Linked DNA regions of Homo sapiens: all the other regions are linked to region 1. The links come from fine-mapping of genetic effects on gene expression. A gene starts in region 1. Each other region holds a variant in brackets. All regions are shown on one strand. Distances are between the middles of the regions.

The links. PIP is the estimated chance that this variant, and not a neighbour inherited with it, causes the effect.
Region 2: its variant is the best candidate, but not a certain one, in a credible set for the expression of ARHGAP12 in fibroblasts (GENCORD, PIP 0.57).
Region 3: its variant is the best candidate, but not a certain one, in a credible set for the expression of ARHGAP12 in whole blood (INTERVAL, PIP 0.64).
Region 4: its variant is the best candidate, but not a certain one, in a credible set for the expression of ARHGAP12 in lung (TOPMed, PIP 0.62).
Region 5: its variant is the best candidate, but not a certain one, in a credible set for the expression of ARHGAP12 in whole blood (TOPMed, PIP 0.84).

What each region holds. Positions count from the first base shown.
Region 1 is chr10:31,926,505-31,931,611 of GRCh38, forward strand. It overlaps ARHGAP12 (Rho GTPase activating protein 12), which reads right to left and starts at 2,327. Exons shown (of 20, transcript NM_018287.7): 1 at 2,179-2,327. LOC107984219 (a long non-coding RNA gene) reads left to right here. Exons shown (of 3, transcript XR_001747415.2): 1 at 1-1,539; 2 at 2,158-2,318. RefSeq lists a silencer at 1,999-2,498.
Region 2 is chr10:31,880,226-31,885,332 of GRCh38, forward strand. The region is part of intron 3 of ARHGAP12 (Rho GTPase activating protein 12); the gene reads right to left. Among named protein-coding and RNA genes, the nearest start is that of ARHGAP12, 46 kb to the right of the region's middle. The variant GA/G (reference allele first, on the strand shown) is at 2,595.
Region 3 is chr10:31,984,473-31,989,579 of GRCh38, forward strand. All of the region lies in intron 2 of LOC107984219 (a long non-coding RNA gene), which reads left to right. The region is part of intron 2 of LOC105376485 (a long non-coding RNA gene); the gene reads right to left. It also overlaps the pseudogene RPL34P19. Among named protein-coding and RNA genes, the nearest start is that of ARHGAP12, 58 kb to the left of the region's middle. The variant G/A (reference allele first, on the strand shown) is at 2,829.
Region 4 is chr10:31,794,455-31,799,561 of GRCh38, forward strand. No RefSeq gene overlaps it. Among named protein-coding and RNA genes, the nearest start is that of MACORIS, 90 kb to the left of the region's middle. The variant C/A (reference allele first, on the strand shown) is at 2,111.
Region 5 is chr10:32,071,469-32,076,575 of GRCh38, forward strand. No RefSeq gene overlaps it. Among named protein-coding and RNA genes, the nearest start is that of KIF5B, 18 kb to the left of the region's middle. The variant A/G (reference allele first, on the strand shown) is at 2,081.

The sequences.
Region 1 (5,107 bases):
TACAGGACAAAAGTTTAATTTCACTTTTCTCTCCCATGATTTATTGTAAAACTGTGATGCCCATTTTCTCAGGTAAGTAAAATATTAGTACTACTGTTTAATGGTTAAACAGATCACCACTATTTAGTTTTTACTCCATTTAAAAATTTTAATCACCCGTATTATTTTCAGTAATATCACTTACGTAGAGTACTTAAAAATTTGTAAAGTTCACTTTCTATCAGCCTACTAAAAAACCACTGAGCAGATTCTTTCTAATTAAAGAAAAGTCAAATGATTAACTACAAGTAACATGCTGTTTTTCTACAGCACTTAATCTATTTTCATTTGCACCTCGAAACAACTGGTATTAGCAAATATAAAACCGAAAGAGATGCAATGTATTGATAATTATATATGAACAACTAATATATATATAACTAACTATACAGACGGCATTATCTTAACAATCAATGAGTCATCAGTCTTCTCCAGCTTGATGAAGTACGAACAGAAATCTATCAACAAATATTGGCGCATAAATATACATACACACATTATATTACACTTCTGGGGTTTCTTTTTCCCCCACAGAGAAACACTTTTAGAACAGTGGAGCCGCATGCAACCAGGGGTCGCACATATGTGCGCAGACGGTCTGGCTCGTCAGGTGGCATGGGTGGGGGTCACGCTTTCACTGCCTGCTTTGGGCTCTCAAAACCCAGCTCTGAAACGTTTCCAAGGCAAAATAAAAATAGCCAAAATGCCTATTCAGACCAGAGGAGGTAGAGGAAGATGACCGATTCTGTAAAACACCCTCCTACAGATAAAGAAAAGGCGATATGGGCAAGTACACACACATCTAGGCCATCGTTCCCGACTTTTAAGTATGAAAGAGGCGTGGCTAGGGGCTAGATACTTATTTTTAACACTTCCATTGAAACACCCGGAGTCTCCCAAGGTCTAACCTCTAGAAGTCGGGTGGCAGAACCTGAATCAGAACCCGAGTGAGCCTTCCTTCCTCCACCACCTCCCTTTAGGAACGCATGCCTAAATAGTCGATAAAATCTACTTCTCAATGTCATGATTAACCCAAAAGCCAGCCACAACCAATCGTGTTATTAGAGTGCTAAAAGCCTCTATCCACAACAAACACTCCACTTGGGATGACATTAAAACTTTCGATAAAGGTGTACTTTCAACGTCGTGCTTTAGCCTTTGAAAATACATTTACAAAACTGCAGCTGCAGTCAAAAGGAAAACATCACACGCCTCGAAAGCTGAAGGGCGTGCCTTTTTCTCTAACGAAGACCGTGTGGCCATTTCTTCTCAAAGGGTCTGCAGTCACTTAAGATAGCAACGCGTAAAGGACAGCCGTTCTGAGAAGACAACCAGCTCCCCTGAGATGGGAGGCGGGCTGCACGCTGGTAAAGAGGATTTTTCAATTCAAGGACTTTGAGGAGATTCCGCCCAGATAAGCTGGAGGGGAGCGAATGCACGTCCATCCAGCAGGGGCAGGGCACCGGGAAAGACCGCAAAGAAGAAAGTGTCCGGTTTAAGGTCAACAGTCCTCGAGGGACGCCCCAGGTGGATTCCCCGGGTGGGCTCCCCGGGTGGGTGGAGGCCTGCAAGCCCCACCGCGATTAGGGAGTGGGCCCAGGGCGCGGGAGGGGCCGGGCCGGCCTTTTGCGCACACACACACACACACACACACACCCGCCTTTTGCAGACACACGCGCGCGCACACACCCGCCTTTTGCACATAGACACGCACACACCCGCCTTGTGCACACACGCGCGCACTCTCCCGCACTCACACACACACCCGCGCACCCTCACACTCTCCTCCCTGGGGGCGGGGCGGGCGGGCGCTGCCCTCACACAGGAAGTCAGGAAACCCAGGGGGCAGAGAAGCCACAACTTCGGGCCATTTAAACCCTCTCGCCCACGTCAGCCAATAGGCTGCGCCGGCCCCCTCCCCCTCGGCGCCTAACCCCCGCGCCCAGAGCCCCTCGCTGCGCGCCCGACCTCCCTTTGCGCGCACCTCCGCGGCGCCGCCGCCGCCGCCGCCGCGCCTCCCGCACACGCCTCCCCCCGACTCCACCGCCCTCGGCGGGCACAGCCCGGCCCCGGCGCGCCTTTGTGCAGCGCCTCGCCAACCTGCCCTCCGTCCGCCAGGACCCGCGCCCTGCACCTCACCGGGAGCCCGGCGGCCTCGCAGCAGGCGGCTCCCTTCTTAGTCCGCCCCGCGGCTGCGGGTCGACGACGCGAGCCCGAAGAGCGTTCACACGGCTACGGCCGCGGCCGGCCCGTCCCCGCAGGCTGGCCTCTGAGGGAGGGTAAGTTACAGGGCACGTCGGAGCGCGCCGGCGCGGGGGCGGGGCTCACGTGACGCGCGGGGGCGGGGCGGGAGGCTCACGTGATGGCCCGGGCGAGCTGGGCGGGCGCGGGTCTCCGGGACGGTCTGGGGTGGCTAGGGGGTGCGGCGCCCGGCGGGGATCCGAATAGGGGGCAGCCAGCGTACGGTGTGGGAACTCGGGCCGGCGCGGGAGCCTGCGGTCAAGGGGGCTCAGCACTTTGTAAACAAGGAGTGGGAAGCGTTAAAAAAACGCTCGTAGGGAAAACCAGGGAAGGGCGGACATAGCGCCAGGGTGGCAGGAATGGAGCCCGGGCAAAGACGGCCCTGCCGTGGGCCCTAGCGCTCCCTTCGTCGGCCCCTGGAGCTGCGGCCGGGCGTGGGTCAGTCGTTCACGGGCCCGGAAATTCCACTGGGACACCCGAAAAAGTGCTGCACGCCGCCTGAGGGAGACGGAAAGGGACCCGGGGCACTGAGTCCATTGCTGGGGTCGCCAGGGTACGTGGCAGGACCCGCTGTGCACACTCGGGACTGAGGAGACCCCTGGGACGCGGAGAGCCGCTCCAGGGCAGAACCAGTCCGTCAGCATTTAGCCTTCCACGGGCCTGAGGGTGCGAGCCCTGCGGGGGCCACAGGGTCATTGTCCAAAGTCATCCCCGTTTGCACTGTGGCAGCACCGAACCCGGAAGTAACAGCTTTGGCAGGTCTTTGATGGTGATCCAGTGGCAGGAGGAGCTCAGCTGGAATGGGAATCAGGAAAGAGACCTGGCTTCTGCCATTTATTGGCACTTCACCCTTCTGAACCTCAGCTTTCAAATGAGAGCTGGCTTCTAGGTCTAGAATACAGTGAGTGTGAGAAAAATAACTGAGAGGCGTTGGGACTTCAGTAACTACTCATTCCTTAACCAGTTGTTGATTGTGCCTGTTGTGCCAGGATGAAATATTTGTTAATAATAGAGACCAGAAAGGAGAGGGGGGAAAAAACAAGCATATGTATGATTCAAGCAATGAAGAGCTACTCTCCGGAGTTGGCTCTTTCCTGTGCTTCACTTCGTACTTGAAGATGCCACAATGCCTGGCTTCCTTATCAACCAGCTGAACTCCGAATTGTGCCTTACAGGATGCGAAGAATCCGGTAGGGCAGTGGCAAGACTTTAACAGCTGTGGTTTACAACCTTCTTATTAAATTAAGTCTAATGCGAGCTAAAGTGTTAAGATAGTCTCCATTTAGAAAGGAAAGAGGCTTACAATGAGAATTTTTGAAAAATAAGCCTGAGACTGTGCTGTCTCTATCGTTGCATTTGCTTTTCACAGTCCTTGGCACCCACTGCCTTTTTGTCTCCCTCGGTTTCTAACCCGTTCTGTTTTCTTGCATTTGTTCAGTATAAGGAGTATTTCCTGTATGCTTTGGCAACTATTTTCCATAGACTCTGCTTGTGTTCTCCTTATAAAACCAGAACAAGAGCAGTGCAAAAAAGAAAACGACCCTGATAGGAATGCGCTGATAACCTTACTTTCCCTACTCTCCAAACCTGAATTGGGCACCCTTGGTTTTAGCAAGAGATAGAACTCAACAGTTTGCATACACTTGCGGATCTGCCTGTAACCCCACTTCCTATTTCACAGCCTAATCTCGGATGATACCACAATGCCCACAGTATGCTGATCACCACCAACAGCAGATGGAGGCGGATAAAAAGAGCTTTCTCGCTAGTGTGTTGTTTTAAAAGAACCTGATGGAGAGCTATGATCATATGTAACACTGCCTCTAGTTAGTTTTTAAATAACACTTGTAGCATATGTCTGGCGCCTGTGCTCAGGATTTCAACAGATCATTTTCAGGATTTTGACATTTAACTGGCTTCTTATGAAGTAGCAGAGAGTTCCAAAATGTAGAACTGAAATATAAGCTCCACACACAGGCAGAGATTTGAGTCTGATTTGTTTGTGTGTATATCCCAAGTGCCTAAAAGCACTTGGCATACGGTAGATGCACAATAGATTCCTGTTAAATGTATTTTTAGGTGAAAATGTAGTCTGTACTTTGCATAAACTTGTCCTACTTTCTTCCTAGTTCTTTAATAAGTAACCTACTTTTCATTATATATTTTTAAATGAAAAAACAAAATTATATCTGGCATCACTACTTTGGCTGGGCTATAAAGAAACAGGAATTTGGCAGTATGTATTAAAATTACAAATGCATATATACTCGGAGCCTTGAATTTCATTTCCAGGGATTTATGCCACAGATGTTTCCACACATAAGAAATAACAAGGTGTTTCTTATTGTTGAGAATAGCAAAAGATTGGAAACAAGCTAAGTATCTATCAACAGGATACTAGTTAAATTATGATAGAGCCATATGTTTGAACATTGTGCAGCTGTTAATCAAAAAAACAGAAAGTTCTTTGTTTTAACATTAAGATCTCCAAGATTTTTTTGTTAAGTGAAAAACACAGAAATACGGTACAGAATATTGTATTAAATTGTATATGCATTAAACTAGGACAAAGTAACATGAGGTATGAGAACACAGTAGATGGAAAGCATAAGAAATAGACTTCATTGTATTCATATTTAAACTTTTTGATATTCAAAATTTCAGAATGTTTTATCTATTCAAATAGTGAAAATGTTTAAAATTTTTCTGGCATCTTTTTGTTGTTGTTGTTGTTATTAAAACATTCAGGCTTCTTCTGTTTTATAAAAGTTTACCTGAGTAAAATAAACATATCAAGGAGGCTGGGTGCAGTGGCTCATGCCTATAA
Region 2 (5,107 bases), 46 kb before region 1:
TAAAAAAATGATTAAAATGTTTAACAAAACATGAATGAAAAAATGTAATGGTGCTCTTAAAGTCCCTAGTTCAAGTTGGGTATTCAAAAATCTTTCATTTTGCCCAGGTGCAATGTCTCATGCCTGTAATCCCAACACTTTCGGAGGCCAGGACAGGAGGACTGCTTGAGCCCAGGAGTTTGAGACCAGGCTAGACAACACAGTGAAACCCCATCTCTATAGAAAAACAAACAAACAACAACAATAACAAAAAAAAACACTTTTGTTTAATTTAATGGGTTCAAACATTTCTGAAACAAAAAGAATAAGATTCTACTTTTGAATGCCCTGTCTTGTTATGGTCTCAGAAAAATGTTTACCTAGGAAACACAGCCTAATAATATCACTTCATGTAATATAACTAAATGTACATAAGTTATCTGTATCAAACTATCCCCAGCAATTATTAATAAGTTCCACCTTTAATACTTCAATCAGGTCAACAATTGTATTTCTATAAATTTTATATTCATATATTCACTTAAGTAAATTATACTTCTTAAATATTAAAACAAGTTCTGGCCGGGAGTGGTGGCTCATGCCTGTAGTCCCAGCACTTTGGGAGGCTGAGACAGCTTGAGCTCTGGGAGTTCAAGGCCAGCCTGGGCAACGTGGCAAAGCTTTGACTCTACCAAAAAAAAAAAAAAAATTAGCCAGGTGTGGTGGCACACACCTGTGGTCCCAGCTACTCAGGAGGCTGAGGTGGAAGGATTACTTGAGCTCAAGAGGGCAAGGCTGCAGTGAACCAAGTTGCAGTGACCTCAATTCCCCCCACCTTCCCCTCCTCCATCTCTATCCCCCTCAGGCTCAGGTGATTCTCCTACCTCAGCCTCCTGAGTGTCTGAGACTACAACAAGGATATGCCCATGCTGTATGAGTTCCTTAAAAAAAAAAGAAAAAAAGAAAAAAAACTTACCACATCAGTTTTCCATCAGAATATTAAAAGTGACAAAGGACTAACCATCAAATATAATATACATGTAATGGGCAGTATCATGTTAAAAAAAAACAAAAACTTGCCTAAAGCAGTAACATTATACTCACAGGCTGAAAAACAGGAATAAATGTCCTGGGCCCACAGACACATAAGAGGCCAACACGGAACACACACAAAAAAAACATAAAATATCAATTCTAAAGCAATATGCAAAGTATACATTTATTTTAAGACTTTTTGCTTACTGCCTTAAAAGTCTGAAAATATCTTTTGAGGGGTCTCGAATAGAAGTCCACAAAGTTTTGAACATTTTATTGCAATGAAATTTCCTTTAGCAACAACAGAAACAATAAACTGTTAAGATTTATTAAGCATTTACTCTAAGCACTTGACTGACTTATCTTGCCAATCATCTCAATACCCTAGAGTTTAACTATTCCTCTCCATGAGGAAGTTGTTAACTAAGATTCAAAACCAGGAAGGTCTATTTAATTCCAAAGTCCAGACTATTACTCACTATCCATATTGTCCCTACCAAATACTACAAGTATTAGTAATCATTTCTTAGAGCTGTGTTTAAAAAATACTTTTGTTACCACAGTGTAAAATATATTCATAACTAGCATATTAAGAATACTGTAAGTGTTCACAGAATAGGAGAAATAAGTGTTTCAAATTTAAAAAAACAGGAAAAACAAAATTTTTGTTTAGATGTTTTTTTTTTTTTTTTTGAGACGGAGTCTCGCTCTGTCGCCCAGGCTGGAGTGCAGTGGCTGGATCTCGGCTCACTGCAAGCTCCGCCTCCCGGGTTCACGCCATTCTCCTGCCTCAGCCTCCCAAGTAGCTGGGACTACAGGCGCCCGCCACTACGCCCGGCTAATTTTTTGTATTTTTAGTAGAGACGGGGTTTCACCGTTTTAGCCGGGATGGTCTCGATCTCCTGACCTCGTGATCCGCCCGCCTCGGCCTCCCAAAGTGCTAGATGTTTTTATATCAGATGAAAATAAACTAAGAATAAACATCTATGTTTAAAATATTTTAGTAGCCAGAGCCTACCTAACCAAATTGCTACCTGGGATTTTCCAATATTTCCATTTTAGTGGAGTTTAGCAACTGATATCTAATGGTGTAATTACTTTTTGTCCCCAAAAGTAATGTTGATGACCTGGAGACATTCCACACTAATATAATAAGGAGAACTAAGTAAAAAATCATGACTGAAAAAGTCAAATTTTTCAAAGAAAGGGCCAATAAACTTTTATGTTACTTTGCTAATGCTGGAGAGTGGAACAAAATGCACAAAACTATGAGCTCTTTAAGAGTAGAAACTAGGCTGGGTGCAGAGGCTCACACCTGTAATCCCAGCACTTTGGGAGGCTGAGGCAGGCAAATCATGAGGTCAGGAGTTTGAGACCAGCCTAGCCAACATGGTGAAACCCTGTCCCTACTAAAAATACAAAAACTACGTGGGCGTGGTGGCACGTGCCTGTAATCCCAGCTACTTGGGAGGCTGAGGCAGGAGAATTGTGTGAACTTGGGAGGTGGAAGCTGCAGTGAGCTGAGATCACACCACTGCACTCCAGCCTGGGAAACAGAGCAAGACTCTGTCTCTTAAAAA[GA/G]AAAAAAAAAAAAAAAACAGAAACTAGGCAAGACTTTGCATTTTATCTAGCACACTGAAAGCTTCTAGTAAGTGGCAAATGTAAAACAGATACTAGATATCCCTCTTACTAAGGAAAATTCAATGGGGCAAAAAATTCTGTCCCTCAAGAAAACTGATTAAGGTTTCTCTGCATTAAGAAATATCTACTCTTGGGCCGGGCACAGTGGCTCACACCTGTAATCCCAGCACTTTGGGAGGCCGAGGCAGGTGGATTATCTGAGGTCGGGAGTTTGAGACCAGCCTGATCAACATGGAGAAACCCCATCTCTACTAAAAATACAAAACTAGCCAGGCGTGGTGGCACATGCCTGTAATCCCAGCTACTCCGGAGGCTGAGGCAGGAGAATCACTTGAACCTGGGAGGCGGAGGTTGTGGTGAGTTGAGATTGCGCCATTGCACTCCAGCCTGGGCAACAAGAGCAAAACTCCATTTCAAAAAAAAAGAAATACCTACTCTTTTAAGACTTACATTAATTATCCCCTTGCCTAAATTTGCTTCAAATTTTAGTTCAACTAACTAAATAGATAAAAGGTGAGAAATGGTGTCAATTCATCTTAAAGTATTGAAAACAGTTCTCACTAGGTTATCTCTCACACTGCATAACATGCTTGAAGAACTAACATAGTAGAGGTATTTTTAAGCTTTCCATTTTCCAACTTCAGCACAAAAATATTTAAAACAGTCTGACCAGAAACTACAGGAAATCTTTCCTTCCTCTTTCCATCCTTACCGGAGACATAAGTCTCACTTCTTGTCATTCCCATTTTTGCACATTCAAGGTTTTCACAACTTGAAACTGAGTATTTTCATACTGTGCTTTCCTTTCAGGAATGTGACCTCATGTAAAATACTTTTTTTTTTTTTTTTGAGACAACGTATTGCTCTGTCACCCAGGCTGGAGTTCAGTGGCGTGATCTCAGCTCACTGCAACCTCTGCATCCTGGGCTCAAGTGATCCTCCCAGCTCAGCTTCCCAGGTAGATGGAACTACAGGCACAAGCCCCAATGCCCAGCTAATTTTTTTTGTATTTTTTATAGAGAAAGGGTTTTGCCATGTTGCCCAGGTTGGTGTTGAACTCCTGAGCTCAAGTAATCCACCCACGTCAGCTTCCCAAAGTGCTGGGGCTACAGGCATGAGCCACTACGCCTGGCCTAAACTTTTTGTAAGCCAAAAAAAGTTCCAATAAGTGAATATTAGCATAGTTTATAACATGGCATTATATGTTTACACCTAAAAAAAAAAAAAAAAAAAGAATTTAATTCTACGTATGGTTAAAAGACCACTTCTTTCCAAACTGACATAAATTTTCACAAAGAATTCATCTGTGTGAGTTCATATCTATTGATATTTAGTATTAGAAAACAAAACTAAAAAATTCTTAAATTATGTATTAGTTCATTTAAAAATAAGCCTGTTACATATTAACATATGTTTTTATGAAAAAGTGATTAATCTCCCCTCCAAAAAAAAAAACGGCACAGTTTTACATTTTTACAAATCTCTTTATTGCCTGGATTCTCACATCTGCTTCTACATTCAATATTTTGCAATTTTTTTTTGGTTGAAGTACATAAACAATGGCCTTATAGATATGTCGGACAAGGAAGAAATACTTTACAGCCTTTTCATATTATTGTGAACATTCTTCTCAGACACTCCACCAAAACTTGACAAGTGGCAGTTTCTTAAAGATGAGTTGCAATGTGGAATCTAAAAATCATAACAATTAACTCTTTGTACTTTCTCACATTAAAACCCACTTGTCTACCTTGCACTGTGAATGGCTCTCTTACCCACTGTACACTGGTCACTTGAGGAACATTCATTCACTGAGTTACGCTTATCTTCCAAATGTTGAAACATTTCATTACACAACATTAAGAACAAACAACAAAACAAAAACTTTAATATCACCACTGCTTTCATGAAGAGTCTTGAGATTGAGAAGCTGTAAGCTCATGACAACAAATCTAAGTTTTCAAAATTCTAATCTCCAGTTGAGCTCAAAAAACTCACCATGTCATTTCTTCATAAATTTTTAAAAAGCTTGAATTTTATCATATGCAATAAAAATCAATTATTTTCTTATTTTTTTTTAATTTTGGGGGTACATGGTAGGTGTGTATATTTATAGAGTACATGAGATGTTTTGATACAGGTGTACAATGTAAAATAAGCACATCCTGGAGAGCAGGGTGTCCATTCCCTCAAGCAAAAATTGACAATTTTCTTTAAAGTGATAGGCTTACTTCTGTTCATTTTTGAGAAAATGTCTAATGTCCTAGTATGAATAATCAGTTTGTCATTCTTTCAAGTAAAATTTACCAATCAAACAAGAGCAACAAAATTTTAATGTAATCATTTTTAGTAGTTTTTAAAAGGTATAACTACTTCCTTGACTTCTTAACCTGGGAACAGGAAACTATTTTTTCAATGTAAAAATAAAGTATCTCTTTACCTTAGAAAGCAG
Region 3 (5,107 bases), 58 kb after region 1:
ATCTGTGACAAGATCAGTGTGCTTTTCTTAGTGAGGAGCAGAAAATCACTGTGAAAGCATTGAAGGCTTGGGCAGAGTCACAGAGCTACATTTTTTTTTTGAGACAGAGTCTCGCTCTGTTGCCCAGGCTGGAGTGCAGTGGCACGATCTTGGCTTACTGTAACCTCTGCCTACCAGATTCAAGCGATTCTCCTGCCTCAGCCTCCCGAGTAGCTGGGATTACAGGCATGTGCCACCACGCCCAGCTAATTTTTTGTATTTTTAGTAGAGATGGGGTTTCACCGTGTTAGCCAGAATGGTCTCGATCTCCTGACCTCGTGATCCACCCACCTCTGCCTCTCAAAGTGCTGAAATTACAGGTGTGAGCCACCGCGCCTGGCCCACAAAGCTAAATTTTAAATTGAAGCTTTTTTGAATAATTAAATCAAAAGCCTTATAAAACAATTGTGTTTCTGCCATTACATTATAGGGAAATGGATGGGCATATTTTCACCAAATGTAGATATATAATGGGGTGATCTGACTTGAAATATAGATTATGTGTTGTACAAAGAGTACATTTTGGCCAGATGCATCGCTGTAATCTCAGCACTTTGGGAGGCCAAGGGGAAAGGATCGCTTGAATCAGTAATTTCAGACCAGCCTGGGCAACATAGTGAGACTCCATCTCTACAAAAAATTTAAAAAATTAAAAATTGAAAATAATTCATTTTGGGGGATTATAGGGAAATCAAGGGAGATGGGCAATCCTCCTTTGGAGCAGCTGAACCTGAGGGTCAAATTGAGGCCCTCAGGGTGCCCATTGGGTCAGAGGGGACTGCGCACATGGTATGAATACTAGCTAAGGCCTTGGAGTGCTGTGAAGACTAATGACATTATCTGTGTAAAGTGCTGACCTCAATGACCAGCACACTCACTTATTCAATTATTTATCAAATTTTTATTGAGTGGCTACTGTGTACCAGATACTCTGCCAGGTGCCGGGGGTACTGCAGTGAACAAAACAGACAGCAGTCTCAAACCTCTCAGGGTTTACATTCTCCTAACACACAGTAAACCATCATAAAAGGTAGCCAGCATTATACTATAATACAAAATATGGGAAAACTAAAAACCATGATAGCTTTTTTCACCAGCTAAACTGGCAAAGATTCTGATGAAGATAATCCCTAGCAGGTATGGGCCAAGAGTATAGGCACTTTTTTTTTTTTTTTTGAATTTTTGTTTGAGACAGGGTCTTGCTTTGTCACCCAGGCTGAGTGCAGTGGCGTGATCGTGGCTCACTGTAGACTTGACGTCCCAGGCTCAAGCAATCCCCCCACCTCCTCCTCCCAAGTAGCTGGGACTACAGGTGCATACCAGCATGCCCAGCTCATTTTTTAGTTTTTGTAGAAACGGGTTTTTGCCATATTGCCCAGGCTAATCTCAAACTTCCTGGGCTCAAGCGATCCTCCAGCTTCACCCTCCCAAAGTGCTGGGATTATAGACATGAGCCACCTTGCCCAGGCAAAAATAGGTACTTTACTCTATTTCTGGGGGCAGTGTAAATTGGTGCAAACTTTCTGGAGGGCAGGTTGACAGCATGTATTAAATGCTTTTACTCCCTCAATTCCACTTCTGACTTATTGTAAGGAAATATTCATGGATTACTCAATAATATCTACTTGGGAAGGAAGTTAAGATGCTCAGAGCCGAGCTCCCCAGTTAGACAAGTCTGAGTTCACACTAAAGCGGGTTCTGCCATCTACTTGCAGTGTGACCCTCAGGTGAATTAGGGGCATCAGCACTGCATGATCTTAGGCGAATTGTTCCCAGCCTCCATGCAGCACGCTCCTCATCTGTAACATGGACATGATAATAGCATTTACCTTACAGGGCTATTGTGAGAAGTAAATGAGATAATGTAGAAAACACTTTAGTGTAGTGCCTGATGCATGGTAAGATTTCAATATACTTAAGCAAAAGAAAAAAAAAAGTATATGTTCATCCCAGCAGTATTTACAGTGATAAAAAGTAAAATAGAAAGTACCTAAGTGATTTAAAATAAATACAGAGAAAAAATTCCATACCACCACTAAAAATCATGTTGCAGATGAATAGTTAATGATATGGAAAATGATCACAATATATTGTTAGGTGAAAAAAAATTGATTATAGCCTGGGCACAGTGGCTCATGCCTGTATTCCCAGCACTTTGGGAGGCCAAGGTGGGAGGATTGCTCGAATCCATGAGTTTTAAGACCAGCCTGGGCAACATAGGGAGACCCCCTATCTCTCCAAAAATAATTTTTTTTTTAATTAGCCAGGCATGATGGCACATGCCTGTAGTCCCAGCTACTCTGAAGCAGAGGATTGCTTGAGCTGGGGAGGTAGAGGATGCAGTGAGCCTTGATCACATGGCTACACTCCAGCCTGGGCAATAGAGCAAGACTCCATCTCAAAAAAAATAAAATAACATTTTAAAAGGTGGTTACAAAGAATATGTACAAAACAAGAGAAGTGAAGGACCTCTTCCAGGAGAACTACAAACCACTGCTCAAGGAAACAAACAAATGGAAAAACATTCCATGCTCATGGATAAGAAGAATCAATATGGTGAAAATGGCCATACTGCCCAAAGTAATCTATAGGTTCAATGCTATTCCCATCAAACTACCATTAATATTCTTCACAGAATTAGAAAAAAAGACTTTAAATTTCATATGAAACCAAAAAAGAGCCTGTATAGCCAAGATAATCCTAAGCAAAAAGAACAAAGGTGGAGACATCATGCTACCTGACTTCAAACTATACTACAAGGCTACTGTAACCAAAACAGCATGGTACTG[G/A]TACAAAAACAGACACATAGACCAATGGAACAGAATCTGCAACCATCTGATCTTCAACCAACCTGATAAAAACAAGCAGTGAGGAAAGGATTCCCTATTTAATAAATGATGCTGGGAAAACTGGCTAGCCATATGCAGAAAATTGACACTGGACCCCTTTCCTACACCTTATACACAAATGAACTCAAGATGGATTAAAGACTTAAATATAAAACCCAAAACTATAAAAACCCTAAAATAAAATCTAGGCAATACCATTCAGGACATAGGCACAGGCAAAGATTCATGACAAAAACATCAAAAGCAATTGAAACAAAAGCAAAAATTGACAAATGGGATCTAATTAAACTAGCGGGCTTCTGCACAGCAAAAGAAACTACCATCAGAGTGAATAAACATCCTAAGGAATGGGAGAAAAATTTTGCAATCTGTCCAACTGACAAAGGTCTAATATCCAGAATCTATAAGGAACTTAAATAAATGTACAAGTAAAAACCAAACCAAACGACCCCATTAAAAAGTGGTCAAAGGACATGAACAGACACTTCTCAAAAGAAGACATTTATGTGGCCAACAAACATATGAAAAAAAGCTCAATATCACTGATCATTAGAGAAATGCAAATCAAAACCACAATAAGATAGCATCTCACATCAGTCAGATGTGAGTCAAGAAACAACAGATGCTGGTGAGGCTGTGGAGAAATAGGAATGCTTTTACATTGTTGGTGGGAATGTAAATTAGTTCAACCATTTTGGAAGACTGTGGCAATTCCTCAAAGACCTAGAACCAGAAATACTATTTGACCCAACAATCCTATTACTGGGCATATACCTAAAGGTATATAAATCATTCTATTATAAAGATACATGTACACATATGTTCATTGCAGCACTATTCACAATAGCAAAGACATAGGATCAACCCAAATACCCATCAATGATAGACTGGATAAAGAAAACGTGGTACATATACACCGTGGAATACTATACAGCCATAAAAATGAACGAGATCATGTCCTTTGCAGGGACATGGATGAAACTGGAAGCCATTATCCTCAGCAAACTAACACAGCAACAGAAAACCAAACACCGCATGTTCTCACTTATAAGTGGGAGTTGAACAATGAGAACACATGGACACAGGGGGAACAACACACACTGGGGCCTGTTGGCGGGGTGAGGAGGGAGAGCATCAGGATAAATAGCTAATGATGCACGTGGGGCTTAATACCTAGGTGATGGGTGGATGGGTGCAGCAAACCACCATGGCACATGTTTACCTATGTAACAAACCTGCATGTCCTGCACATGTATCCCAGAACTTTAAATTAAATTTAAAAAAAAGAATATGGCCAGGCACGGTGGCTCACGCCTGTAATCCCAACACTTTGGGAGGCCAAGGTGGGTGGATCACCTGAGGTCAGGAGTTCGAGACCAGCCTGGCCAACATGGTGAAACCCCATCTCTACTAAAAATAGAAAAATTAGCTGGGTGTGGTGGTGGGCACCTGTAATCCCAGCTACTCAGGAGGCTGAGGTAGGAGAATCGCTTGACCCTGGGAGGTGGAGGTTGCAGTGAGCCGAGATAGCACCACTGCACTCCAGCCCGGGCAACAGAATAAGACCCTGTCTCAAAAATAAATAAATAAATAAAATAAAAAGAATATGTACAATATCCCAATTTTAGAAAAAAATACAGGAAGGCGCTATACTATGTATTTTCCACAATAAGCATGCATTATTTTGTGCTTTTGTGCTTTATACATATTATTTATAGCAGACGTATATTAGGTTTTGCACGTCCAGCATCAGCCCACTTCCTTCTAACATCCTGGTTTTCTTATGTGGAATAATCCATTCCCCTCTGCCAGAAAGGCGATTTTTGGCTTCCACATCTCATATCCACCTCTCACTTACGGAAGCCACAAGGCTTTGATCCCAGAGGCTGTGCTACAAGAATGGTGGATATTTTGGAGGGCATTGTTAGCATCCTGGCAGCACTGTGGGTGGGGAGTGGGTGGGGTTGGTAATGTGACTCTGCTGACAGTGTCCCATCCTCTGGGACTTCCTTGGTCCTTGCCCTTTCCCAAGCCTGGTCATTGTCCTCCCACTGTGTTCATGAGCCCCTCTTAACCTGTCAATAAATCCTTTTCTGCTTAAGTTAGCCAGAATCTTTTTCTGTTGCACACAACCAAAAACTTTTACTAACAAGTTACTTTTAAAAACTGGAAAATGAATAAAGCAAGCCGTAGCAGCTATGGAGCCATTCTTTGCCGGA
Region 4 (5,107 bases), 130 kb before region 1:
TTATGCTTTAAGTCATTAATAAAGTTTTAATACCATGGTATTAAGACAAAGTCTTGGACCACTCAATTATTCTCATAGTATACCACCAAGCCACTTATCAACACTCTCAACAGTTATTTGACAGCTGTGTATTTCTTTAAAAGTACCAGAAGCTGAAGTTTTTATCTCCTTATCCGTAAGATATTATGTGCAATTTTGCCACAGGCTTTGCTGAATCTAAGATTGGATATGTAGCATACTTTCCATTGAGCAAACCTTTTTTCTATACTGGAAAAAAAGTATTCACCTTGATGCTTCTGAATATTTCCTCTATTATTTACCAAACATCATTGACACATGCTCTGGGATTCCATCTGCAATTTCTTCAAGAAGCAGAAACATACTAAAATGTAGTTGGCCTCGCCCTGGAGACAGATGCATTGAAAACTTTTCATTTCTTTCCATAGCTGTTCTTTGCTTTTTTATCCCATCTCTACATTATTTATTTTATCCTTCCCTGTTTTAAGATAATTCTGGCTGGGGACAGTGGCTCACGCCTGTAATCCCAGCACTTTGGGAGGATGAGGTGGGTGGAAAATTTGAGGCCAGGAGTTCGAGACCAGACTGGGCAACATGGTGAAACGTTGTCTCTACTAAAAATAGAAAAATTAGCCGGGTGTGATGGCTGGCTCCTATAATCCCAGCTACTTGGGAGGCTGAGGCAGGAGAATCACTTGAACCCCGGAGGCAGAGGTTGCAGTGAGCAGATATCATGCCACTGCACTCCAGCCTGGGCAACAGAGTGAGACTCTGTCTTAAAAAATAAAATAAAATAAAATATAAAATAAAATAAAATAAAATTCTGCTCATTGGAGATGTAGCATTTCTCATACTTCTGGATCTGAATATAATTTAATGGCATTCTTTGTTGACTAGCATTTTCTGAAAGTTCACTAGGAATTTTAACCTTCCTAATATTTTTATAAACTTTTACTCTTTTATGATCAGTTTATGTGCTCCACACAGTCAACTTTAGTTCATCCCTTGGAATCTGTGTTCACCAGAGGTCTTCCTATGCAAGCATACCAGTTATTTCAGTTTCTGTCTCTTCCCACTTGGCCTTTCATTATTTGTATACAGTTGTCCCTCAACATTTGTTGGAGATTGGTTCCAGGACCCAATCTGCAGATGCCCAAGTCCCTTATATAAAATAATGTATCTGCCTATAACCTAGTCACATCCTCTGTACATCTGTATATGTTAAATCATCTCTAGATTGCTTATAATACTTAATACAAGTAAATGTTATATAGTTGTTATAGCATATTCTTATTTGTGTCATTTTTATGGTTGTATGGTTATTTTTGCTATTTAAAAAATATTTTCCATCCTTGGTTGGTTGAAACTGCCAATGTGTAATCTAAGGAGGGTCGTCTGTACTTGAAATCTCACTTTTTCCAAATAATTCAGTTTAACCTCTTGAGCCATAAGAATTTTCACTGAGTTTGCTGAAATCAGACTCCATGCATGGTTGACTAAATCCCATATTTCATTTCCTTGCCATTATGAACTGTAAGATACAGGAATCACTGTCTCCCAGGCATCCTGTCATTCCCAGACCACCAACTAGCTCTTTATTTATTAAAATAATGCACACAGCTACTCCCCCTCTGAAAACATAAACAAGGTGGGACTCAATTCCAGGACTCAACTTTTAGCAGATGTCAGGATGGTTGAAGGCCCTTAACCCTACAGGTCATTTCTGTGTATGTTGTTGTTATAATATAATCCGTACTAAGCAAACATCATCCAAATCTTTCCAAATAGGTGAGTGTTATCATATAATTATCCTAAGTGTCACATATTTCCTTTTAGCAACACTTAAACGCTCATCATTCTCCTAATCCATAGATTTATGGATTTCTTTATAGATGAATGTCTTATTTAGGTATCACACAACTTGTCTTTCCTATTCAATCTACTTCATTTGGACCTAATGGATCGATGGCCATTTTATGGTTATAAATTCTGCATGTTCGTTTTGTAACCTCTGCTGCATCTATGGGATATTTAATTTCTAACAAGACATGATGTTCATTCTATTTTTTCAATGCTCTGCCTTTCATAGATA[C/A]CTGGAAGTAAAATATTGGGCCCAAACAGCCTTTATTGTAAAGATGACTTCTGTGTATTGCATAGTGCTTCTGTTACATAAGTTCTTTCAGTTCAGTGATGGCCTTTCTTGGCATATATAATTTAACTCATCTTTAAAATTTAAGTCATCTTGATCAGTTTACTTTCCTGCCAAACATTTGGTCTTTAGAAACATTATCCCTTCGCAGGGACCAGCATCGTGTTATTGCCATACTACTAATAAAAACAACTAACATTTATTACATGCCATGTTTCCAGGGGTGAGCTGGTAAATGTTTAACAACTGGCACAAAATCCACACACATACATAAGTGTATAATAAATGTAGCTAATATAAATAAAATAGATAATACTCCTTATTGCTAATTCCACATAACCAATTTATTCACAAAGTATCTTTTTATTTTTCCCAAATTCTTCTATCTCTAGCCATCCTGTGATTGCAATTGGTTCACAAGTGTAATCTGGCATGAATGTTGGTTGATATTTTTATTTACATTAACAAATAAGACAAAAGACAATCAACACATGTCAGAACTTCACTGATTTGTCCATGATATATCTGGCTTCTTTGCTGAATCAGATCATAGTTTTTGAACACTGGAAGAATATTTCCTCAATTTCTTGTGTTGTTCACCATGTAACAGCTACAGACACATTTTAAATTTTAATCTGCATTAACATTTTCCCCATCACCTTTTTAAGTCTAGACAAATTGACCAAACAGTAAACCATCCCTGATTTGGTCTAAATACTGCCACTACCAAACTGCCAATTTCAAACCACCTTGATGTCACTAACGTAGAACTGGGAAAAAGTGTAAAGTACACCATTGTATAGTATTTCCACCACACAGGTACCTTAATATCTGTGAAATAACCTTAAAAGCAGAGATAATAGTAAAATATGATAAAATAATAAAGAATTAAGTTTTGACTATTTCATTGGTTTTAAATGATGCCCAAGTCTCAGCTGAAATAAAATAATAGGCAAGTTTATGGAGCTCCTCTCCAATCCTTTCTTTTCCTTACAGTGTTATTTGTTGAGAAAGCCAGACCCTTTGACAAGTTGTTTCTCGGTCTGAGTCTTCTTGATTTCATAGGCAGGATGTAGCTCTCCATCCTTTATATTTTCTGGAAGCTACATTCAAAGCCTGATTCAGATTTAAGGTTCAATTGCTTTGACAAGACCATAAGAGGTCTTGTTTTCTTCCATCAGGAAGCATGTAATATCTAGTTCTCTTTTGATGATGCTAGCAGCCATTGATGCTTAATACACAGATTTATTAAATCAATGGGGAGTATAAAGTGGATGATAATAATTTCAATTATTAGTTGGAAACTTTTTATTTATTTATTTATTTTGAGGCGGAGTCTCGCTCTGTCACCCAGACTGGAGTGCAGTGGCGCGATCTCGGCTCACTGCAAGCTCCGGCCTCCCGGGTTCACGCCATTCTCCTGCCTCAGTCTCCCGAGTAGCTGGGACTACAGGCGCCCACCACCAGGCCCAGCTAATTTTTTGTATTTTTAGTAGAGACAGGGTTTCACCGTGTTAGCCAGGATGGTCTCAATCTCCTGACCTCGTGATCCGACCGCCTGGGCCTCCCAAAGTGCTGGGATTACAGGCGTGAGCCACCACGCCCGGCCGGAAACTTTTATATAGAGGTACTTCCCCTCATCTGCCATATGGATACTTAGTGGTCAAGTGCATACAGGATAGGCCAAATAAATGTTTGATTCTTTCTCTTTATCATCAGTTTTCAAGAAGATATGAATTTATTCCCTCTCATCCTCCTCTTTTGATATTATTAATTCATGGGTGTAAACATATCAGTGAGTTTCAATTCATTGCCAACTATTATTATTGAAGCTCCAACTGTCCATTTTTGGCCAGTGGGAACTTCAAGTCGCCTCCAGAATTCTTTTGACAAGATCCTGCTAACATTTGATCACTTCCTTGCTATGACAATTCTTTCAGGATCATCTCCCACGTTTCCCGCTCCACACCTGGAATCAGCCATATCTCCAAAATGCCTTGGTTTCTTTTAATGAGAAATTCTATTTCAAGGTCAAAACCCAGGTGCTAAGGATGCTCCCCCAGTTGGTCATTCTTGTTACACCTTTTCAGTGATCAGTTACATACATGAACACATAGACACATAGATTAAATATCTCATGACATCATATTGATACTCCCAATTCAAATTAAAGACCACAAAGTTTTTACTTTAACTTACCACCTTGTTCCATTCTTAGAAACCTGATTGCCAAGGACTCGAGACGATAGAATTAAAATATCCAATATGTACTCATTTGTTTAATCATATGCTACATACACACCAGGCAGAATACCACCAATATGACTGTTGAAAACATTAAATTTTCGCCTATGTTTTCCTCATTATTCCATTGTAAATGGTACTAAGTCTTCATTTGTCAGTGTTTATAGTCATTAAGGACTCTATTTTCTCCTTGCTGGCCCTCACTTCATCTTATTTCTGTAAGCAATTAAATATTTAATGCGCAACATCAAGTCTCATGTTGCTATCTCTAAGACATTTTGGTACTCTGAAACTCATTCTGCAGTAGATTCTTAAAGAAGGGCTCTCTTCCCAACCTCTTATTCAGTGGGAGATATTTCAGTACTACCCATTATTTAAAACAGCAATCTCACATTGTGTGATACTGCTTTCATGGAACCTAATGCCAACTGAATATGCTACAGGCATTGGCAAGAGTGGTAAGATCGACAGGGAGGTCCAGTCACTGTTACTGGCAATGTTCAGGCAATCAATTTGGCTAATATTAACAGGTCAGGAGACAAGGGCATGACCAGAGACAGCAGTCATTACATGTAGCTAGATGTCAGAAATGTCACATCAGATCTGGTTCCCTAACAAGCAGGTTGAATTCAGGTTACCCCTGCAGTCAGAACGATGTCATCCAAGGATATTGCAGTTTCCCTTATGACAGAAAAG
Region 5 (5,107 bases), 140 kb after region 1:
TGGAAAGCATGCATTTTTGTATTAGTTGTCTATGTAATACGCAGTCTCTATAATACACAGTGATACAGAGAATATTTGTGAAGTATCCACTTTACTTTCTCTTATACTGGAGGAAAACTAAAGATCTGTACAACACTTTTATTCAGCTTATTCTTTTGACTTTTAGGATTACGTAGACTTAAAAAATGTTCGACTAACCCAGGAGGCTCAGCCTGGCCCACCAAGGAAGATCAGTGCATAGCAACTGCCTCCCTTCACATGGCTCCACCTGGTAACCCCAAGGTCTGGGCTGTTCTAGGTATTGCTCCATGTGCCCCAACAAGCCCTTATCAAGAGGGCCTGTTTCCCTTAAGAAGCAATCCCAGGAAGTGGCCTTGATCCCTCCGCCTCCCTGAGAGTGGACCCTCATCTCTCCTCGACCTCCATTTCATTTCTGGGAATTAGGGCTTAGTTTTGAAACCTTGCAAGGCTGTTTGTACTAATGCCCAAGCCCCCTTACCCCTCTCCCTGCGGGTTACACAGGGGAGACCTGAGCCTCGGCAGAAGACTCTGCTGCGAAACTTCCGAATCATTCTGCTTGCCAGAATCTTGCCAGTCACCTTCACCAGCTGACTGACCCAAGTTTAGGACTATTGCTATTGTTTGTTTAAAAACCACATATACAAAACTCTTGTGAATATTATTTTTATGCTGGAGAGGAAGGCACATCTCCCTCTATGGCTCTGCGCTGGGGCCTACAGTAGTAAAGTTTACTGTCCTTTTTTGCCTCCCCTGGAAATGACAGGCATTACTCTTCTATTGGTTTCCCTTCTCTTTATGGAAAGACCAAGCAGGCTCCACTGGCCAACAGGTACGGTATTTGGTCGTCTGAGTTCTCAGTAATTTGGAAAGTTAAGGGGTTGGTTCCTGTGTCACCTTTCAGTTAGTGTGGGAAAGGAAGACTCCTGTTTTCTGAGATCAGTGCAGTCTCAGGCCTTTGGCAGGGCTCACGGATCAGAGCTGAGACTGGAGGGAGAGGCATTTGGGGTGGCCTGGGAGGGTGACTGGGGGCAGCAGAACCAAAGAAGGCAAGGTGTTTCCCCTAAGCTGGGTCGTGTGTTCAGGTGTGACGTACAGGATCACCTATGCACTGCCCTTGATGATCAAGGTTGGGGCTTAAGTGGATTAGGGAGGCAGGTTCTGGATTCCTTGCCTTTTCAGAGCATGAGGTCAGCTCTGTATGCCTCCTTTTCCTAGCTGGTATTCTAACTAGAAGCATTTGTCAATTCCTTTGTCTCCCAAATGACAACACACATTCATTTTCCAACCTTCCTAACATCTTAAATCTTTCTTCCGGGAGAACTAGAAGATAGAATTTGCTTTGATTCTCTCAGGCACTGTGCACAAGCCAGGTCTTCTGTTTTCTGTTACTGTACCCACATTCTTGCCTTCTCTATCCAACTGTGAAAGGTGAGGGGAGGCCCCTGTCCCCCTCTCTTAAGGTCCCCAAACCTGGGAGCGCATAGGTACTAAATCAAGCAGTGCAATTTGTAATTAACCAGCTGCAGTGTTTACATGTTTCTTAATGTGTCATCTTTTCAATGGCTGTATGTTAAAAGAAGAACATTTGTTTTAATAGTCTCTCGATTAAAGGAAGCCCCTGTGGCTTTGGAGGCATTGTGCCCATGATCCACCAAAAAAAAAATGTTCAACTATACTAAAATGTATATACCAATGTTTATCATACAATGGAACAAAACACACTTTAGCAGTCAAAATGGAAACTCTAAGTGCAGTATCTATAATTTAAATGCAGCCTTTTCATTTTATGAGTGGTGTGCTGAGAATAAGCACATGACTTACCAGAATCAAAGTACAATGTGTGTCCTGACAACAAAATCATCAAATCAATATGTGAAAGTAGTTCAAAGTATCGGTTGCCGAATTTGATTCCCTGTGAAATAACTTGCTCTCCTTTTTCAGGGCTATAAGGAAAATGTACGTGAGATCTGGCTAAACTCATGGAAGAAATTTTTGCTATCTCTTTATGCACACACGCTCTTTCACGCAAACATATATATAATATATGTAACATTTATAC[A/G]TACATCTATAATGCATATATATGTGATGTATATTATATGTATATACAATGAACTTGGATCAATCATTTATTTCTACATCATTATTTCTCCCCCACCCCAAATCCTGCTCACCCATCCCATTTGTTACAGATTTAGAAAGCGCAAACAGCTACAGACTTTGTTCCTGCAAGTCCAAAGTTATAAGCAAGTCTTCAAGGGAGCTCTGTCAGCCCTGAATGAAGTCTAGGACAACCTCATAGCACTTATCATTAAGTTTGCTTATTTGCAACCAGCAGTCAGTGTGACAGTTGCTTTAGCTCAGCTAAGGAGGAACAGGGAAGTGGACAGATTCCAGACTCAGCTGCTTGGCTCTTTCCTACAATGCCTGGCAACAGCACAGATCACAGGAATCCTACAACCCACAGCATATCTTCCAGGACTAAGGTCTTCATTAATATATTCTTCATTTGACCATTTGACAAGTATTTATTGACCACCTACTAAACACCATGCCCTGGGATTATAATAGGAGGAAAAATAGATCTAGACTCTGCTGTCATGGAACTTAGAGTTCAATGGAAAACACTAGACTGTAAGGCTAATTGGGATAGAAATCTAATTTTTTTTAAATGAACAGACTTCAGCACCATTTATTAAATCATTCATTATTTCTCCCATCCAAGTACTATTTCTCAAAACTTTATGATTCTACTGTCATACAACAAGATTCCATATATTCATGGGTGTGTTTCTGGACTTCTGAGATGAAAGCTTCGAAGATTCTATTAATCTATTTATATATGCCTTCACCATATAAATTTAAAAATTTACAGCAAAGTTGAATTTTATAGTGATCACCTGTATACCTGCTGCCTAGATTCTACAATTAACACTTCACTATCCTTTCTTTATCATGTATTCACCCAGCTATTTATTGCTCTTTACATCCATTGATTCACCTTTTTATGGTGCCTTTCCAATTAAATTGCAGACATCAATACACTTTTCCCTAAATATAACACTATACTTTAAAAATTATAATTTCACAGTAAGTTTATAGTGTTACTGTTATCCCAAATGAATTTTTCAATTATATAGCTCAGAAAATTTGATACTTAATTTCCTATTAAGATGTTGAAAAGTGAAAAAAAAACACAAAACTGGGACCTCAAAGGCTTGCTTGTATGGTGAGGGGAAAATGCAGCAGAGACTCCTCTCAAGCCTGGGGGTCTCCATTCTAGGCCAAAGGGAAAGAAAGGAGCTCAGATAACTCTACCCTGATTATCTGGATCCTGGGATCCTTACAATTGTGAGAAACTGAACAATTTCAAACACTCCACTTCATGTTACCAGAAAGGGAGACTTAGATTTTTCTGTGAGAGCAGGCTGTTCCTTTCTTTCTTGGTTTTTGGAAAAACAGGATGGTAGATTTTTTGGTAAGAAAGATTCTATTTTGTAATAAAAAGATCCAACAAAATGAGGGGTTATGCTGTTCTGCATAGTATTTCAAACATTTGTCTTCATTGCAGGAGCTATATTCCTGTAAATTGATTTCTTTAGGATAATATTTCTTTCTTAAATATGGCTTTGCTCTTTGCTGTCTTTGAAAATTATTGATTATTCTTATAGATGTATATGTGTATTGTGTGTTTTCTTGTTTAAAGATCAAAGGAGCCAGGAGCGGTGGCTCACGCCTGTAATCTCAGCACTTTGGGAGGCTGAGGCGGGTGGATCACGAGATCAGGAGTTAGAGACCAGCCTGGCCAACATGGTGAAACCCCATCTCTACTAAAAATACATAAATTAGCCCGGCAGGCATGGTGGTGGGTGGCTGTAATCCCAGCTACTTGGGAGGCTGAGGCGGGAGAATCGCTTGAACCCGGGAGGCAGAGGTTGCAGTGAGCCGAGATCGTGCCGTAGCACCCCAGCCTAGGTGACAAAAGCAAGACTCCATCTCAAAAAAAAAAAAAATCAAAGGACCTGGCACATAATAAGTACTCAATAAAAGTTAATCATTATTAATAATAAAAATATTAGACTTCTATCAGTCATATAGGATGAAGGTTCAGATGATTTATACTTCAGCATAAAGGGAAATGAAATCTCACACGGTAAGGACATCAGGTAGGCTGGGCAAGGTGGCTCATGCCTGTAATCCCAGCACTTTGGGAAGTCTAAGCAGGAAGATTCCTTGATCCCAGGAGTTTAAAATCGACCTGGGCAGCATAGAGAGGCCTGTATCAAAAATGAACAAAAACCAAACCAAACAAAAAGATATCAGGTATATCTGAGATACATATCATTACAAAATATTATTATTGTGCCTTCTTATTATTGTGATTATTTAATTTTCCAGAGAAATAAATGCAAACTAGTGGGAAATTATCTTCCCTTTATCATGTATCCTGACAGCTATCACTCATTCTATCCATACATTGATCCACCTTCTTTTTGGTGCATTTCTAATTAAATTACAGACATCAGTACACTTTTCCCTAATAACATTATACTTTTAAAATTATTGTAATGTCATGGTAAGTTTTTTTGTTTTGTTTTGTTTTGTTTTTTTGAGATGGAGTCTGACTCTGTTGCCCAGGCTGGAGGGCAGTGGCGGCTCACTGCAACCTCCACCTCCTGGGTTCAAGTGATTCTCCTGCCTCAGCCTCCCCAGTAGCTGGGATTACAGGCATGTGCACCACCACATCCAGGTCATTTTATATATATATATATTTTGTTGTTGTTGTTGTTTTTTGAGACGGGGGTCTTGCTATGTTGTGCAGTCTGGTCTGGAACTCCTGGCCTCAAGCGATCCTCCTGCCTCAGCCTCCCAAAGTGCTGAGATTACAGGCGTGAGCCACTGCCCCTGGCCTTTAAGTGTCTTTCATATTTGGATAAAATGACTGGTGGCTAGAGGACCCTAAAAAGACAAAACTAGGGGGTTGGAACTTGCAGCCTCATTCCTCAACTTCCAAGGAGGGGAGAAAGGCTGAAGGTCAAGTTGATCACCAATGGCAAGTAATTTAATTAATCATGCGTCCGTAATGAAG